2 linked regions of the Homo sapiens genome follow. The protein of the gene in region 1 purifies or fractionates together with the protein of each later gene. This does not show direct contact. Each region holds a gene or a part of one and is shown on either strand. Other genes may lie near its edges.

Evidence for each region. Proteins that work in one complex are often made in the same cells at the same time.
Region 2: the proteins of ALB (region 1) and RANBP3 purify together in Homo sapiens (affinity purification with mass spectrometry; one large-scale study listed by BioGRID and IntAct). This does not show direct contact.

Annotation. Positions count from the first base shown.
Region 1 is NC_000004.12:73,410,764-73,414,413, forward strand, and holds part of ALB (albumin preproprotein), read left to right. Parts: intron 1-1,232; coding exon 1,233-1,362; intron 1,363-2,656; coding exon 2,657-2,871; intron 2,872-3,650. UniProt on the Homo sapiens protein: Binds water, Ca(2+), Na(+), K(+), fatty acids, hormones, bilirubin and drugs. Its main function is the regulation of the colloidal osmotic pressure of blood. Major zinc transporter in plasma, typically binds about 80% of all plasma zinc.
Region 2 is NC_000019.10:5,922,510-5,926,159, forward strand, and holds part of RANBP3 (ran-binding protein 3), read right to left. Parts: intron 3,229-3,650; coding exon 3,125-3,228; intron 2,397-3,124; coding exon 2,318-2,396; intron 1,406-2,317; coding exon 1,303-1,405; intron 795-1,302; coding exon 685-794; intron 1-684. UniProt on the Homo sapiens protein: Acts as a cofactor for XPO1/CRM1-mediated nuclear export, perhaps as export complex scaffolding protein. Bound to XPO1/CRM1, stabilizes the XPO1/CRM1-cargo interaction. In the absence of Ran-bound GTP prevents binding of XPO1/CRM1 to the nuclear pore complex.

The sequences.
Region 1 (3,650 bases):
TTATTTTTAATTTTTGTGGATACAGAGTAGGTATACATATTTACGGGGTATATGAGATATTTTGATATAAGTATACAACATATATAATCCCTTTATTTAATTTTATCTTCCCCCCAATGATCTAAAACTATTTGCTTGTCCTTTTATGTCTTATAGTTAAATTCAGTCACCAACTAAGTTGAAGTTACTTCTTATTTTTGCATAGCTCCAGCTCTGATCTTCATCTCATGTTTTTGCCTGAGCCTCTGTTTTCATATTACTTAGTTGGTTCTGGGAGCATACTTTAATAGCCGAGTCAAGAAAAATACTAGCTGCCCCGTCACCCACACTCCTCACCTGCTAGTCAACAGCAAATCAACACAACAGGAAATAAAATGAAAATAATAGACATTATGCATGCTCTCTAGAAACTGTCAATTGAACTGTATTTGCTCATCATTCCTACCATCTACACCACCAAAATCAACCAAATTTATGAAAAAAAACAGCCCCAACATAAAATTATACACAGATAAACAGGCTATGATTGGTTTTGGGAAAGAAGTCACCTTTACCTGATTTAGGCAACTGTGAAATGACTAGAGAATGAAGAAAATTAGACGTTTACATCTTGTCATAGAGTTTGAAGATAGTGCTGGATCTTTCTTTTTATAAGTAAGATCAATAAAAACTCCCTCATTCTGTAGAAGTTATGATTTCTTTTCTAAGAGACCTTTAGAAGTCAGAAAAAATGTGTTTCAATTGAGAAAAAAGATAACTGGAGTTTGTGTAGTACTTCCCAGATTATAAAATGCTTTTGTATGTATTATCTAATTTAATCCTCAAAACTTCTTCAATTTAGCATGTTGTCATGACACTGCAGAGGCTGAAGCTCAGAGAGGCTGAGCCCTCTGCTAACAAGTCCTACTGCTAACAAGTGATAAAGCCAGAGCTGGAAGTCACATCTGGACTCCAAACCTGATGCTTCTCAGCCTGTTGCCCCTTTTAGAGTTCCTTTTTAATTTCTGCTTTTATGACTTGCTAGATTTCTACCTACCACACACACTCTTAAATGGATAATTCTGCCCTAAGGATAAGTGATTACCATTTGGTTCAGAACTAGAACTAATGAATTTTAAAAATTATTTCTGTATGTCCATTTTGAATTTTCTTATGAGAAATAGTATTTGCCTAGTGTTTTCATATAAAATATCGCATGATAATACCATTTTGATTGGCGATTTTCTTTTTAGGGCAGTAGCTCGCCTGAGCCAGAGATTTCCCAAAGCTGAGTTTGCAGAAGTTTCCAAGTTAGTGACAGATCTTACCAAAGTCCACACGGAATGCTGCCATGGAGATCTGCTTGAATGTGCTGATGACAGGGTAAAGAGTCGTCGATATGCTTTTTGGTAGCTTGCATGCTCAAGTTGGTAGAATGGATGCGTTTGGTATCATTGGTGATAGCTGACAGTGGGTTGAGATTGTCTTCTGTGCTTTCGTCTGTCCTATCTTCAATCTTTCCCTGCCTATGGTGGTGGTACCTTTCTGTTTTTAACCTGGCTATAAATTACCAGATAAACCCATTCACTGATTTGTAACTCCTTTCAGTCATGCTCTAACTGTAAATGAAGGCTTAAACTGAAGTAGAACAGTTACAAGGTTTTACTTGGCAGAACATCTTGCAAGGTAGATGTCTAAGAAGATTTTTTTTTCTTTTTTTAAGACAGAGTTTCGCTCTTGTTTCCCAGGCTGGGGTGCAATGGTGTGATCTTGGCTCAGCGCAACCTCTGCCTCCTGGGTTCAAGTGATTCTCATGCCTCAGCCTCCCAAGTAGCTGGGATTACAGGCATGCGCCACCACACCTGGCTAATTTTGTATTTTTAGTAGAGGCGGGGTTTCACCATATTGTCCAGACTGGTCTCGAACTCCTGACCTCAGGTGATCCACCCGCCTTGGCCTCCCAAAGTGCTGGGATTACAGGCATGAGCCACCTTGCCCAGCCTAAGAAGATTTTTTGAGGGAGGTAGGTGGACTTGGAGAAGGTCACTACTTGAAGAGATTTTTGGAAATGATGTATTTTTCTTCTCTATATTCCTTCCCTTAATTAACTCTGTTTGTTAGATGTGCAAATATTTGGAATGATATCTCTTTTCTCAAAACTTATAATATTTTCTTTCTCCCTTTCTTCAAGATTAAACTTATGGGCAAATACTAGAATCCTAATCTCTCATGGCACTTTCTGGAAAATTTAAGGCGGTTATTTTATATATGTAAGCAGGGCCTATGACTATGATCTTGACTCATTTTTCAAAAATCTTCTATATTTTATTTAGTTATTTGGTTTCAAAAGGCCTGCACTTAATTTTGGGGGATTATTTGGAAAAACAGCATTGAGTTTTAATGAAAAAAACTTAAATGCCCTAACAGTAGAAACATAAAATTAATAAATAACTGAGCTGAGCACCTGCTACTGATTAGTCTATTTTAATTAAGTGGGAATGTTTTTGTAGTCCTATCTACATCTCCAGGTTTAGGAGCAAACAGAGTATGTTCATAGAAGGAATATGTGTATGGTCTTAGAATACAATGAATATGTTCTGCCAACTTAATAAAGGTCTGAGGAGAAAGTGTAGCAATGTCAATTCGTGTTGAACAATTTCCACCAACTTACTTATAGGCGGACCTTGCCAAGTATATCTGTGAAAATCAAGATTCGATCTCCAGTAAACTGAAGGAATGCTGTGAAAAACCTCTGTTGGAAAAATCCCACTGCATTGCCGAAGTGGAAAATGATGAGATGCCTGCTGACTTGCCTTCATTAGCTGCTGATTTTGTTGAAAGTAAGGATGTTTGCAAAAACTATGCTGAGGCAAAGGATGTCTTCCTGGGCATGTAAGTAGATAAGAAATTATTCTTTTATAGCTTTGGCATGACCTCACAACTTAGGAGGATAGCCTAGGCTTTTCTGTGGAGTTGCTACAATTTCCCTGCTGCCCAGAATGTTTCTTCATCCTTCCCTTTCCCAGGCTTTAACAATTTTTGAAATAGTTAATTAGTTGAATACATTGTCATAAAATAATACATGTTCATGGCAAAGCTCAACATTCCTTACTCCTTAGGGGTATTTCTGAAAATACGTCTAGAAACATTTTGTGTATATATAAATTATGTATACTTCAGTCATTCATTCCAAGTGTATTTCTTGAACATCTATAATATATGTGTGTGACTATGTATTGCCTGTCTATCTAACTAATCTAATCTAATCTAGTCTATCTATCTAATCTATGCAATGATAGCAAAGAAGTATAAAAAGAAATATAGAGTCTGACACCAGGTGCTTTATATTTGGTGAAAAGACCAGAAGTTCAGTATAATGGCAATATGGTAGGCAACTCAATTACAAAATAAATGTTTACATATTGTCAGAAGTTGTGGTGATAAACTGCATTTTTGTTGTTGGATTATGATAATGCACTAAATAATATTTCCTAAAATTATGTACCCTACAAGATTTCACTCATACAGAGAAGAAAGAGAATATTTTAAGAACATATCTCTGCCCATCTATTTATCAGAATCCTTTTGAGATGTAGTTTAAATCAAACAAAATGTTAATAAAAATAACAAGTATCATTCATCAAAGACTTCATATGTGCCAAGCAGTGTGT
Region 2 (3,650 bases), on another chromosome or scaffold:
TGGAACCTCTGGCCGCACCTGATCTTTTCCCTACGAAGACACCACAGGATGCCAGGTGACAAATAATACAGTTGCCAGCTCTGGGCGACAAGAGAATATGTTTGGTATGACAGTCTTTGTCATTCCCTGAACCATCAAAAATGTCTCGGGCTGGGCGTGGTGGCTCACGCCTGTCATCCCAGCACTTTGGGAGGCCGAGGCGGGTGGATCACATGAGGTCAGGAGTTTGAGACCAGCCTGGCCAACATGGGGAAACCCCGTCTCTACTAAAAATACAAAAATTAGCCTGGCGTGGTGGTGCACACCTGTAATCCCAGCTACTCAGGCGACTGAGGCACAAGAATCCCTTGAACCCAGGAAGCAGAGGTTGCAGTGAGCCGAGACTGTGCCACTGTACTCCAGCCTGGGTGACAGAGTAAGACATTGTCTCAAAAAAAATTAAAACAAAACAAAGAATGTCTCAAACAGATCCTCCTCCTCTGAAACCAAAGACATGCAAGAAGCCCCTGAGCCTAAGCTCTCTCTACAAACGCCACCAACAAAGTCCCAGAGCGTGGGGCCAGTGGCCCCTCCGTCATCTCAGGGGCAGGCCTGTGTGCTCAGAGGATGTGGGCCCAGCCCTTGCGGTTGGACCCCCAGGTGCATGGAAGACCCAGGGCCACCGAGGAGGGGCCGGCCCCTCACCTGTAACACATTGCTCTCCGCCTCCTCCCCGGTGATGACTTCCACTTTTTCCAACAAACACTTCCGCGCTGTTGCCTTGGTGTAGGCGGCTGCCGACTCAGCCAGGGACTCTGAAAAGTTATTGGCCAAAAAGACTGACTGATTATTTGGCGAGAGGAGAGCCATCTCCCCTCATCCGACAGGAGATGAGAGGGTTGGTTCTGGTCTCAAGGACGCCTGCTGCCCCTGGCAGGCCTGCCCCGGCAACCCAAGTGGACCCTAGACACAGCCAGAGCATATGGCCTCAGAAGCTGCAGGGAGACCATCTGGGGGCCAAGTGTGGCCCCAGACTCTCGTGTTCGTGCCGAGCAGTCGACGGGGGGACAGTGAGGGACTCCTCCACGCCTGCTGCCTGCGCCTCCCCACCCTCCCCACGGCCACAAGGCGACACAGGCCCTCGAGTTCTTTATCACAAACCCTTGCTCACTGCAAGGCAGGGCCCTGGAGCTGGTTCACATGTGGTTGTTACTGCTGCGGGAGTCGGGCCCCTTATCCCTCCCGGCTGGGGGTGTGAATGGACCCAGCATCCCCCAAGATGACCTACCATGAGCCCCATGCTGTGGTGGGACGCTAACATACCTTTCTCAGGGGTGGCCTCCTGGGACGAGGACTCAGACCCTGACTCGGCAGCTGCATTTTCCCTGTTGGCATCTGAACTGACCTCGTTTAATTTTGGGGGGCTCTGCAGGGACACAAAAGCATACAAGGAAGAGGGCACTTGTGTGGTCCTTCAGCAGCAGCTCTGAGCACCTCTCTGCCTGGCCCCCAACACTACGCTGCCCCCAGCACTCCTGCCCACTCCCGGTGACACCCTGAACTGCCTGGGAGCTCCCCACGTGGTCCCTCAGGCATCACTACGGGGTGAGTGCCACCAGCCGACAGTCCCCTCGAGCCACACTGGTCACTCCGTCTGGGTGAGGCAAGACTTTGAACATTTCATTGAAATAGAAAAAGCACAGCGTGGCCACGAAGGAAGAGAAGCTGCAGAGTACTTAATGCAGCCTAACTCCAGACAGAGCTAGAGTGACCAGGCGGCTCAGGACAGGCCCTCACGCAGTCGCAATGGAGCTGGGTGGAATCAGGAAGAAAAAGGAACATGTGTAAAGAGGTAGGCAAACCATTCTAGAACCCTCTCCCAGGCTGGCTGGGCTCCTGGGAACGGAGATGGGCCTTTCGTGCACCCAAGGCCTTGGCCGCGGTTATGCTCACAGGAGCAGGGAGGCCAGCAACCCTGTCCACCAGCACGGCTGGCTCCGTCCCACAGGACTTTTGTCAGTTGGCCTGGTGGGGAGGAACCATGGACCCCGACTGCCAGCAGGACCCTGCAGCCTCCAGGGAAGCCCATCTTGGGATGAAGTTGGCCCTGGTCAGCACGGAGGAGCCGGGAAAAGCGAATGCCAGTTCGTAGGCAGCCAGTGGCCCTGGCCAGTTTTCAGGCTGAGTCTGAGCAGGGTCTTCCCTCTCTCACTTGCTACTGAAGGCATCCCCATCTCACATAGGACGACACAGCAGCCCTGCTCTCCATGTCCCCTTGACCTGTGGCTGGCGCCGAGAGCCTCTGGTCCCTGAGAACATTCCCAACACAGCCACTCACCAAAACTCGCTCGCTCATGTTCTGGCCAAATACAAATTTGTTGCTGGAGGCGTCGGCACTATTGGTTGAGTTCTCTAAACTGAAGAGAAGATGTGCAATGAGTGTGGGGCGTCACGTGGGAACGTGGCCAGGCAAATGTATGGGTACCCATGGAGCACACACTGACACAGAGGGCACAGTGGAGGGGCCTCCGCCACTGTGCACGGGGTGGCGTGTCAGAGGCAGGAAGCCACACACCTCCCTGTGCCATTGAAAACATTAACCCTTAGCTCGCCCTGATGGAGGGGCCCCACAGCATGAGGGAAGCCACCTTCCACCTGCTCTACCCGCCCATCTCCCAGTCGGGACACGCTTTCTTCTGAGACACCTGGAGGGGCAGCTGGTCCGTGGGTAGCATTACCCCCAGCCATGTCAGTCAAGGACATGATGAGGTCTTTGCCCCAGGTGCCCAAACCCAGAATAAGGGGGCGCCTGAGTCGCCTCTGGCCTGCTCTGTTCTGCTCTGGGCATGAGGTCCACAAGACAGAGGGCACACTCCAAGGGCTGGGCTGTAGCCTCCATGGGCCCCTGGACAACCCCACAGAACTCTGGTCCTGTCTCAGGCGTCCAGTGAATCCCAGGACAAGGCCCACCACCCTGGCCCACCCAAGGTTGTGCCCAGAGTGGGGAATGAGAGAGAGGGGCCTGAGAGCAACCTGGATTCTGGGCCTGAGTCGGGCACGGGGACCACAGACCCCTCTCTGGCAGAAGCCCTCGCGGCCACCTGCATCGCCATGCCAGGCTGGCCGCTGACACCGAGACACACACCTGGAACTGATATACTGGAGGAAATAGTTCGTTGCGGTTGGCGTGTCTGCGCTGGGGTGTCCAGCATTCTCCATGTCGGCTTCGTCCACGCTCTCATTTATCAGCTGGGAATGAGACGGAGCGCTCAGTAATCGGGGGTGGGGGGGTGCCTGGAGTTCCACAGCTCAGTGTCTGCAGACCCCCTGAGCTGCATGGAGCTGCTCGGAGCCATGAACCCTCTCCTGTACCCGCCTGTGTGTGTGCGCGTGCATGTGCTGGGGGGCAGGGCTATAATCAACTCCATCACCTTTTGCTTTAACAGTTAGGATGGAAAGAGAGCTCATGAAGCTCCAAGGAGCCTTTTCCACCTTGTTACAAAACCACGCCTTGTTATAAAACCACGCCTAAGCTGGCCTCTCGGTCAATGCTTCATACCAATAACACAACGTTACAAAGCTGACGTTTTGGGGGGTTTACTATGAACATGATAGAAGCAGAATTTCTTGAGGGCCTCTTTCCTACCAGCTGCTATGCTGAGTCTGTCAAA